2 separate regions of the Homo sapiens genome follow, and region 1 is linked to region 2. The links come from fine-mapping of genetic effects on gene expression. A gene starts in region 2. The other region holds a variant in brackets. All regions are shown on one strand. Distances are from middle to middle. Region 1 overlaps PITPNC1 (phosphatidylinositol transfer protein cytoplasmic 1). Region 2 holds the start of PITPNC1 (phosphatidylinositol transfer protein cytoplasmic 1).

Region 1 (5,369 bases), 44 kb after region 2:
TAAGCAGAGACTGTGGCTTTCAACTATAAGTAAAAGCATGCTTGGGGGAGAAGGAGGAAGGGAGAAAAAAAAAAATGAGAAAGCAGAAAGATGCAACAGGGGTTGGCAAAGAGTCAGGAGCAGGGAGTGAGGGGGAAAGTAGGTACATGTGGTGGAGAAATGGAAGCTCTCCCAATGGTTCCATCAGTTCCACCACACTGGCACAGATTCTAGAAGTTTCCTATTTCTGGAGTAGGACGCAGACATGATGCATTTCCTACTAAGACAGATTTCTATCCAGGAAACATCATTTCAAGTTGCAGTGCCAGGCTCGAGGATCCTTCTCCGTCATTGCTTCAAGTGTGGTGGGTTCAGTACCTCCTTTAATGTAAGAGCTGGCCCGTCTTCCCTACCTACTTGGGACACTTTCTAGTTTTGACCTTAAGTAGGGTATCAGGAAAATTCCGAGAAAGGGAAGACACTCTTTTTCCTGAATTACAGAATAGACCAACTCATTAGAAAAAATAAATTAAAGAGGCCAGGCGCAGTGGCTCAAGCGTATGATCCCAGCACTTTGGGAGGCCGACGCAGGCGGATAACTTGAGGTCAGGAGTTCGAGACCAGCTTGGCCAACATGGCGAAACCCCGTCTCTACTAAAAATACAAAAATTAGTCGGGTATGGTGGCAAGCACCTGTAATCCTAGCTACTCGGGAGGCTGAGGCAGAAGAATTGCTTAAACCCGGGAGGTGGAAGTTGCAGTGAGCCGAGACTGTGCCGCTGCACTCCAGCCTGAGTGAGGCTGGAGACCCAGAGCAAGACCCTGTCTCAAAAAAAAAAAGAGAGAGAGAGAGAAAACCAGAACCCCTTTGTTTCAAAACCATCCACATCTGTCTATCCATCCGTAAAGCACAAAGTTATCAGAGACAAATCATGGTCTCATTTTGCTTCATGCATTTTGGACCTGACATGAGTCCGTCTTTGATCCCTGAGGGGTGGTAGAAACAAGCAATGCTTTTCAGAGTGAAGCTAAAAAAGGCACTCTGTGGAAGAGAATATATTTTATAGATCAGTGATTAGTGAGTCTTTTCATGACAAGTTTTGTATTAATTATGATTTGAAAACCTCCAGTGCAGGGTTCTCAGGAATTACTAAGTGCCCCTGGGTACAGCAAGAAGCACTGGAATAAAGAATCTCAATGTGTGACCAAATTTCTAAATTCTTGGGGGTGTACAGAAATTAGCCACTTCTATTTTCTCTCTCTCTTTCTCTCTCTCCTTCCTTCCTTCCTCCCTCCCCTCCCTCCCTCCCTCCCTTCCTTCCTTCCTTCCTCTTCTCTTCTCTTTTCTTTTCTTTCTTTTTTTCTTTCTTGAGTCTTTCTCTGTTGCCAGGCTGGAGCTCGGTGGCGCTATCTCGGCTCACTGCAACCTCCACCTCCTTGGGTCAAGCGAGCCTCTCACTCACCCTCCTAAGCAGCTGGGATTACAGTCATCCACCACCACGCCTGGCTGATTTTTATATTTTTAGTAGAGACGGGGTTTTGCTATGTTGGCCAGGCTGGTCTTGAACTCCTGGCCTCAAGTAAACTGCCCGCCTCAGCCTCCCAAAGTGCTGGGATTACAGGCGTGAGCCACTGCGCCCGGCCTCACTTCTGTTTTCTACTTGTGTTTTTATTTCCATTGCATTTCCTGACTTGTGTATATTTTCTCGTTGTAGAAGCACTTAGTGTTTTGGCACTCAGACTTACTTTCCAGTGTTTCTTCTGATCAATCAATAGCCCTTTACTCATACTAACTATATGTGATGGAAGCAAAGTCAGGAATGTCTAATGTGGGGGCAGAATTCACTATGAAGCTACTTAGAATTTCACCAGCCATGAATGATACATTATCCATCATGTTAGCTAGAATATACTGGGCTCCAGTCTCTTTTGGGGGATCTTTAGGGTCCTTCTGGGTGCAGAAGGGAAGATGACATTTCAGGAGATCTCTGCGCATTCCACCCTGGCTTCCTTCCTTCCAGGTAGGCTGAGAGAAAGCTTTCTTCTTGATGGTGCTAGTGAGAACTTGGCAGGTGGAGCAGGAACTGTTAGTTTTTCACTCCCTGTTGGAGTCATTCACACATACAGCTCATATAGAAGACGGATGTCTTTTGTCTTGGTGCCAAAGACTTGAAAACAGAGAACGGTAACTTTTATTTATTTATTTATTTTTGAGATGGTGTTTCGCTCTTGTCACCCAGGCTGGAGTGCAATGGTGTGATCTCAGCTCACTGCAACCTCTGCCTCCTGGGTTCAAGCGATTCTCCTGCCTCAGCCTCCTGAGTAGCTGGGATTACAGGCACTCATCACCACGCCTGGCTAATTTGTGTATTTTTACTAGAGATGGGGTTTTACCATGTTGCCCAGGCTGGTCTTGAACTCCTGACCTCAGGTGATCCACCTGCCTCGGCCTCCCAAAGTGCTGGGATTGCAGGTGTGAGCCACTGTACCAGGCTAGAATGGTAACTTTTGAAACCCATTTTTGTTATTCTAAAGTCTTCACGGTGTGGTGTTGGGAAGGCTGGGTTGCTGTGTCAGATGGGTACCCTCACCCCAGTTATGGCTGTTCTCACATCCAATTCCAGGAAGCCTCATTCTTGTGTGGTCATAGAAAAGCAACCTTAATTTTCCTGTGTCTTAGTTTCCTTACCTCCTAGAAATGTGGCAAAGATGCAGAATCTGTTTATTTAGTAAATATTTATCAAGTTCTGGGAATACAGCGGCGAATAAGCCACCAAATCCTTCCTTGATGGGACTCACCCTCTAACACAGCCAAGGCAATGAGAGACCTTCCAGGAATAACATTGAGAGGCAAATTATGCATGTAGGTGACACATGAGGCCAACAGGAAATGACCTCGAATTGAAGTTGAAATTTACAGTGCGAGATGAGCCAAGAATCTGTGAACCCTTAGAACTCAGGCAAGGTGAGCTGGTGTGACTTGCAGGAAGTATGACTCAATTGTGACTGTACCCAAGAAGGCTTAAACCACATCATCTGAAAGAAGGATGTGCCAACATACGCTTCCAATGACTAAAAGGAGGGGCAGAGGGAAAAACAAAACAGCATGTTCCCAGGCCCATCCTAGGAGGAAGGAAGGCTATTAATACATTCCTTTGACATT[G/A]TCTACTTACCATTGCATAGAGTTGGAGGTGAGTGGCATATGGAGAGACAGAGATTTGGAGACAGACTGAGTTTGAATCCCAATTTTGTCTTATTAGGCCGTGGACAAGTCATTTCAACTCTCTAAGCTTCAATTTCCTCATTATTTATTTTTTAAAATAGAGATGAGGTCTTGCTATGTTGCCTAGGCTGGTCTTGAGCTCCTGGGCTCAAGCCATCCTCTTGCCTTGGCCTCCTGAGTACATACAGGTGTGAGCCACCACACCCACCTGCCCAGCCCTAGCTTGCTCACTGTCTTTCTTTTTTTCTTTTTTTTGAGACAGAGTCTTGCTCTGTCACCCAGGCTGGAGCACGGTGGTGTGATCTCGGCTCACTGCAACCTCTACCTCCCAGGTTCAAGAGATTCTCCTGCCTCAGCCTCCTGCGTAGCTGGGATTAGACTACTACACTCGGCTAATTTTTGTATTTTTAGTAGGGATGGGTTTCACCATGTTGGCCAGGCTGGTCTCGAACTCCTGACCTCACGTGATCTGCCCACCTCAGCCTCCCAAAGTGCTGGGAATAAAAGTCGTGAGCTACCACGCCGGTCTAGCTTACTCAAACAATGTCTAGTTTGCAGGGTAGTGTATGTACGTGCCTCAGTGTCTTTGGTGTGATATACACTTAGTAAATGTTAGTTCAGCTCTAACAGACTCATCTGAGATTTTGATTCTGTAACTCCCAAGAGTTCAGTATGCTAGCATTTTTTTTTTTTTAACATGAGGAAGAGTTGGGTAAGGAAGAGCTGTGTTTTAATTGCATTACGGCTCAACTGCTAACTGTTTTGATATGTTGAACAAAGTCCATTGATTCTTCATGGAGGAGTGCTTGCTGGGGAGTGTGAGTCAGCACGTCTGCGTTATTAACTTGTTCGGAAGCTTTTTGTGGCAGATTGATTTTAAAAGCCCCCAAGGAAACAGAGGATTTTATTTAATAGAAATATTGTCAGAATGACATTGAGATTTGGGTTTAGCTTTCAAATCACTGGATACAAGTTGAATCAGGTCTTTTCTCTGACAGATATTGGAAACATGGTGTGTTGGAGAAATACTCTCCATTGCCTGGCAGGGCCCTTACCTTGGGAGAGGGGGATGATATTTGCCTGGAGCACCCCGGTGACCCCACCTAGCAGGCCTGACTTTCTAAAGGCAAGGATGTGGGCTTGGTACAGAGAGGTGGCGAAACCTGAATATTAGTATTTTCAAATCTGATTACTAGTATTTTCAACCGACCTGACTAGGCGCAAATCCATGCTCATTTAAATGAAAGTCTACCTGAAATCATGCCTCACTGCAACCATGCACTTCTGGGCTTAAGCGATCCTCCTGCCTCAGCCTCCCTGAAGGTCCACCTGCATTTGAATAAGGATGGATGTGCGCCCAGGTATGTCTTTGTGGGTTTCCATCCTATAGTTCTGGAGCAAAGGACAAATGGAAGAAAGTTGCTAAAGAAAAGAAGAGCGTTTCTGTGGCTCCTTCAAGAGCAGTTACAGATTTCTGTCCTGAAGCCAGGAGGGAATATGTGGCCCAGGTCCCACAGTGGAGAGTTGCAATGCTCCCTCTTGGGCATCTCTGTCCTCATTTGGATTCAGGGCTGAAACTTCGGGATCAGTTTCACAGAAGAGGTTTCAAGTAGATTTCTTGCAGTCCTGAAAGTCACACTTCTCTGAAATTGGTTTAACACCAATCCAAAACCTATTGGTGTTCCTGTTACATTTTACAACTCTTCATATGCCACTTAAGAAATGACCTCTCTAGAATTGTGACTCCAGCCTAGGCAACAGTGGGAGACTGTCTCAAAAAAAAAAAAAAAAAAAAAATAGAGTTGAGGATGAGGAGCTCAAGAATAAAAGTGAGATGGGATGGACAGAGAAAAAGCAGGAAAACTAGCGAATGGTATGGTAGAAGCCAATAGAGAAAGGACTTTCAAGGTGGAGGGAGAGAATTTAAGAGTTGGGACTTCTCTTCCAGCAAGAAGAGGAAGAATGGCATAAGAGGGACTGTGATGTAGGCACTATGTCACCATCGTATTTAATCCAAACTATAACTATGCAAGATTACCACTTGACCTTCAAGAAAACTGGGCTGGCTGGGCGCAGTGGCTCACTCCTGTAATCCCAGCACTTTGGGATGCCGAGGCAGGAAGATAACCTGAGGCCAGGAGTTCGAGACCAGCCTGGCCAACATGGT
Region 2 (5,369 bases):
GAAAGGTGGCCGGGGAGGAGGGGCTTTTGCAGCCAACTGACTCGTCTCATTTGGCTGGAGTTGGGCTGGGAAGGGTAATGGACTAATGTGGGAAAGGTAGATCCAGAGCCTTGAACCTCCTACCAAAGCATTTTGACTTGCTCAGTAGGCCATAGAGAAGCCCTAAAAGGTTTTTATATATTTTTAAATTTTAGAGACAGGGTTTCAGCATGTTTCCCAGGCTGGTCTTGAACTCCTGGGCTCATGCGATCGGCCCACCTCCCCTCCCAAAGTGCTGGGATTACAGGGGTGAGCCACCGAGCCCAGCCAGGAATCACTAAAAGGTTTGAAGGTGGCAGGATGAGAGCTGTACTTGCACAAGATTAATATGACCAGGTTTGCGGATGCAATGAATGAAAAGAAAATGAGAATCCAATGGAGAAGTCACCTTACAACAGGAGGGGTGGGCTGGGCGCGGTGGCTCACACCTGTAATCCCAGCACTTTGGGAGGCCGAGGCCATCACCTGAGCTCAGGAGTTTGAGACCAGCCTGACCAACATGGTGAAACTCCATCTCTACTAAAAATACAAAATTAGCCAGGCGTGGTGGCCGGTGCCTGTAATCCCAGCTACTCCAGAGGCTGAGGCAGAAGACTTGCTTGAACCCGGGAGGTGGAGGTTGCAGTGAGCCGAGATCATGCCATTGCACTCCAGCCTGGGCAACAAGAGCGAAACTCCATCACAAACCAATAACAGCAACAAGACGGATGATGGAGGAAGCATATATGTGACAATTTACAGTTCGGGAAATTCAGAGAAGTAGCTCCTCAACAGTGTCACCCGTCAGTAGAATACTTCCTTCCAGAATCAGTGTCAGGAAATGTCCAGGAAGCCAGGAACTGAGCCTACACATCCCGATGTCCCAAGTGCATGCGCATGTGTGGCTAGCCAATCCCTTGCCTTCCTGCCTCTGGGAAGATTATTAGGTCTTCCATTTGTTTTCAAGTAAGAAGCAAAAAAAAAAAAAAAAAAAGGAAAAACAGCTTGAGTTTCTTTCCATATCACAGCCTTCCAATGTGTTATTATTCAACACTGCAGTGTCAGATTTAGATTTTCCACCTCGAGGAATTTGGTTTAGCTTTAATTAGTTGCTGTGAATATTTCTGAGCCAACTCTGGAAAGCATTTATCTGGAAAATAGTTTCCACTAAAATATAAGCTGGATATAGGGTATCATTTTCCTAGGAGGGTTTGTATCAGTTAACAGTTATAAATTCTCTCCAGCCCTCTGGATGACTTTTGCCACAAGCCCATCATCGTCATATTGGTTAATTACTTATTAATTAAACACAATTCAAAATACTGTATTGAGGCATCTGCATCGCCATCTAAGCTCTAGCTTCAGGACTTCAGAGCGTGAAGATTTTTCGGAGAAAAGATAACGCTTACAGGTTATTCTCATACAGGCAACTGATGCATTTTTCATCCGGCAACTTTTCATAAAAACAAGCTGAAAAATACCAGACAAATGAAAAACAGACTTCAGCAGTTCCATGCTGCTTCCTGAGTAACTGAAGAATGTGCTTCTTGTGGTTAAAATGAGAGATCTGTTTAATATGGATCAAATAGCAACACTCCAGGCATTTTCATTGACATTTCACTGTGACTTTTTGAACTTAGGAGTGCGGATACGAAAACCTACTCTTTCTTTCTGCTGCGCGGAGCCTGCACAATCTGCAGAAAGATTGCAGAGCCGGGCCAGGCGAGGTAACAGGCTACGTGGGGTTCATGTTCTCTCTGGTTGTTCCCTCCCCGTTTGTACTTCATTTCCATTCACACGGCTGCACTTCCCAGTTTTCCAGGATCTCTCCTCTGAAACCAGGCAAGGGTTTGTTCCCAAATCCCACCCATTGCCTCTCCAGCCCCAGACTTGCTTACTGGACCACACATAGGTGGTGGGCATTGGTGACTTGTCCCTAGGGTCAGGGGACCAGAAACTTCCCAGAGGGGCTGGATGGAGCACGGCAGCACTCAGGGCACAATGGAGAGCGGATTCAAAGGGCAAAGGAGCCGAGGAAAGCCCCTCTGCCCGAGCCTCCCCAGCGCCGGCCGGGCTCCGCTCCGGAGCAGCCCCGCCGTCTGGCAGAGACATGCTGTTTTGTTTAAATCCTCCACATTCTTTGCCATTTCCCCATTGGCCGGATGGGGCTACCCTCCCCGCCGCGGCCGCTGCTGATGTCAGCCTCGCTCGCGCTCGCTCCTCCCGCACCCACCTCCCGGCCCCAGGCACACTGCATCGGCGCGGACGCTCCGGCCCCGGCGAGGTGGCTGCAAACTCGCGGGCACGCACGGCGCCCGGGGAGCCGAGGGACTCGGGGGAGGGGACGCGCGCGGAAGGCGCCAGCTTCCTCCCGCCCGCCCCTGGCAGCCGCGAGCCGAGGTTGGAGGCGCCCGGGGCCCCAGCCGGGCAGAGCCGAGCGGCGGCGGCGGCGGCGGCTTCCCTTTTCTCCCCGAGCCGAGCCCCGGAGCGGCGCGGGGACCGGCCCTAAAAAGAGCAGGAAATCTTGTTTACCGCCCGCGGAGAGAAGCCGATCGAGCCTTTGTCTGGAAAGTCAGCATCTCCGGCTCCGGCTGCAATGTGTTCCTGGTGACATTAGCATCGGGCAGACCCGCCGGAGGAGGGGGGTCGCCAGGTTCCCGTCTGCTTTCGGAGGCGGATCGAGCGGGTGACTTTTGTGCATTCGTTTTAATTTTTGGAAATCTCTCTTTTTTCCTCCCTCGCTCGCTGCCGGGCATGTCCTGATCTGGCGGCCGCTCCTACCACCCTGGGCAGCCGAGCAGAGTCGTCCCCAGCGGGTCTCCCTCCCTGCCTCCCTGACTTTGCAACACCGCGTTCCGGGAGGACCGGCCTCGGCGAGGGAGGAGGCGGGGGAGCTGCGAACACCCAGACCCAAACCCTGACATGCTCTGGGGCGGAGAGGAGGAAGCCAGGAGCTGAGCGCGCCGCGGGGGCTGCTTCGCCCTCCGGCTCCGAGCGCCGGGCTCCGGGCGCCCTGCCCTGCGCCTGGGCAGCAGCCTTGCTGGTCTTGGGGGCGCCCCCCGCTTCCCGCCCCGGGGGTCCGCGGCCGGCAGGACCATGCTGCTGAAAGAGTACCGGATCTGCATGCCGCTCACCGTAGACGAGGTAAGCGCCGCGCCCGGCCCGGCCTCGCCCGCTCCGGGACCCCCGCCGCTACCGCCGCCTCCTGGCCGGCGAGCCCCGGGCGAGCGGCAGGAAACCCAGGTGGACGTTACCCCGCAAACCCGAAGCCTGGAGGAGAGGAGGGAGGGGATTTGCGGCTTCCACTTGTCACCCCAGCGGGGGAGGGCGGCGCTGGGTGGGGCGGCGGACTCCGGGTGGGCTTTTCGGGGGCGCCCAGAATCCAGACTGTTGGGGATCACTATGAGCCAAAGGGAGTGGGTGCGCCCCCTCCCTCCAAATAAGAAAATGAATAAACCAAACCCAAGAGCCCCCGGCGCGCGCTGTAGCTGGGGTTTGGGGGGCATCCCGTCCTGGCCGTGGGCCCAGCCTCCCCTCCCCGCCCTCTGCGGTCAGGTAGGGGTGCGAGGAGGAGCCCTGCGCCCTCGGGATCTGCACGCCCCGAGCCCCGCGGGAGGAACCTCTGAGCCCTTAGGGGAGGTCCCTGCGGGGCCCGACTTCTCGCCGTCGCCGCGGGCTTGGGCGCAGCTCCCGGCACGTCCGCCCTTCGAGGCTCGGGACCCGGCTGTGTCCTTTCGCAAACCGCCTGGCTCGGAAACTTTCTGCGTCTCTTGTTTCTTCCGCCGCGGGGAGCGGCGCGCGAGCCGGGAGCGGCGGGGGCTGCGACGCGGCCACAGGAGGGCGCTCCAGCACGTGGTGCCGGGGCCGCGGCTGCCGGCTGGGGGCGCCGGGCGCGGGGCGGGGGCTCGTCCTCCAAGCGCGGCTCTGCTGTCCTTCTCCCGATCCTGCGAAGCCGCGAGCTCCAGTATTCAGGAAGTGGTGACTCAGATAGGATTATTCCGGCCCCGGCTTCCCTTTCTTCCCCTTCTTCCTCCCCACCTTTGTGGTGATTCCACGACTGCTGAGCGTCTCTGTCCAGGGACAGCGAGGGAGCCCAAAGCCAAGCAAGGCAACGTGAAACTCACTAGTGTGGTTTGGTGTGGCAACACACATGAAATCAGCCACCCAGACCGTCTTTATATTTAAATCTGGTGCCTCGAAACTATCAGATATGTTTTTGAGCCACTACTTGGTGAGAGGGGCGATGTGCTTTGGGAGAGAAAAAGATGCATAACTGAGAACATGGCTGAGCTCACAGGGGCTGTCCGTATTTGCCATCTGGACCAAGGGTTAAGGTAAGACCCAAGTACAATCCAAGACAAGATCAAAGTAGCTGCAAGTTTACAAAACGCATCACGGGGACACAGGCTGCCAAGGAGGGAGAGATCAGCTTCCACCAGAATGAACAACCGAGTTTTGGAGTTCGTTGGCATTTGAGGAGGTAGCATTTAAGCAGGGTCTGGAAGGGTGGATGCCAGGTGGGTAGACAGAGATTCGAGTTGCATATGACCTTGTAAGTGGAGAAGCAGGACATAGCTTTGTGGAGAAAGAGAAGGGCAAATGAATGGGACTGGTTAATAGGAGTCTTTCCAGAAAAGGTGGAGATTGTCCCACCTTGTGGGCAGTTGAGCTAGAGTAATTCAGCTGGGAGGCATGGATCCCTCTACTCCATATCCTAATGACCTTGTTTTTTGATATGAGTTTGGATTCTAGGAGCAATGTTGGGACTGCATGAAATACACAGAAAATTGCAGGTGATAATCAAGAAAAGAACCAGTTCTAGAATCTTCTCTACTAACTACAAAATCTCTTTATCCTAGTTGGTTCCCTTTTCAGGCTTTCTGAAACACTCAGGCAGATGCTTTTCCCACTTTTGTTTTTGTACCGAAATACCCACAGGTATACCGTGGGGTAATTACATTTGAATGATATAGGTGGAGGCCCTTCCTTCCTTCCTTCCTTTTTTTTGTCTTTTCTTTTCTTTTTTTTTTTTTTGAGATGGAGCCTTGTTATGTTGCCCAGGGTGGGGCGCAATGGCGAGATCTCGGCTCACTGCAACCTCCGCCACCTGGATTCAAGCAATTCTCCTGCCTCAGCCTCCTGAGTAGCTGAGATTACAGGTGCCTGCCACCACGTCTGGCTAATTTTTGTATTTTTAGTAGAGACGGGGTTTCACCATGTTGGCCAGGCTGGTCTTGAATGCCTGACCTCAGGCAATCCGCCTGCCTCAGCCTCCCAAAGTGCTGGGATTACAGGCATGAGCCACTGCGCCCAGCCAGCCCTTCCTTTCTTAATTGGCCAACAAAATCAGA

What was found.
Region 1: its variant is fine-mapped to the expression of PITPNC1 in fibroblasts (GTEx, PIP 0.93).

Annotation. Positions count from the first base shown.
Region 1 is chr17:67,419,109-67,424,477 of GRCh38, forward strand. The region is part of intron 1 of PITPNC1 (phosphatidylinositol transfer protein cytoplasmic 1); the gene reads left to right. Among named protein-coding and RNA genes, the nearest start is that of PITPNC1, 45 kb to the left of the region's middle. RefSeq lists an enhancer at 2,306-3,505. The variant G/A (reference allele first, on the strand shown) is at 3,143.
Region 2 is chr17:67,375,041-67,380,409 of GRCh38, forward strand. It overlaps PITPNC1 (phosphatidylinositol transfer protein cytoplasmic 1), which reads left to right and starts at 2,241. Exons shown (of 9, transcript NM_012417.4): 1 at 2,241-3,162. The coding sequence starts at 3,115. RefSeq lists an enhancer at 2,047-2,740 and silencers at 2,126-2,245, 2,296-2,545, 2,896-3,315, 3,326-3,625, 3,736-4,095.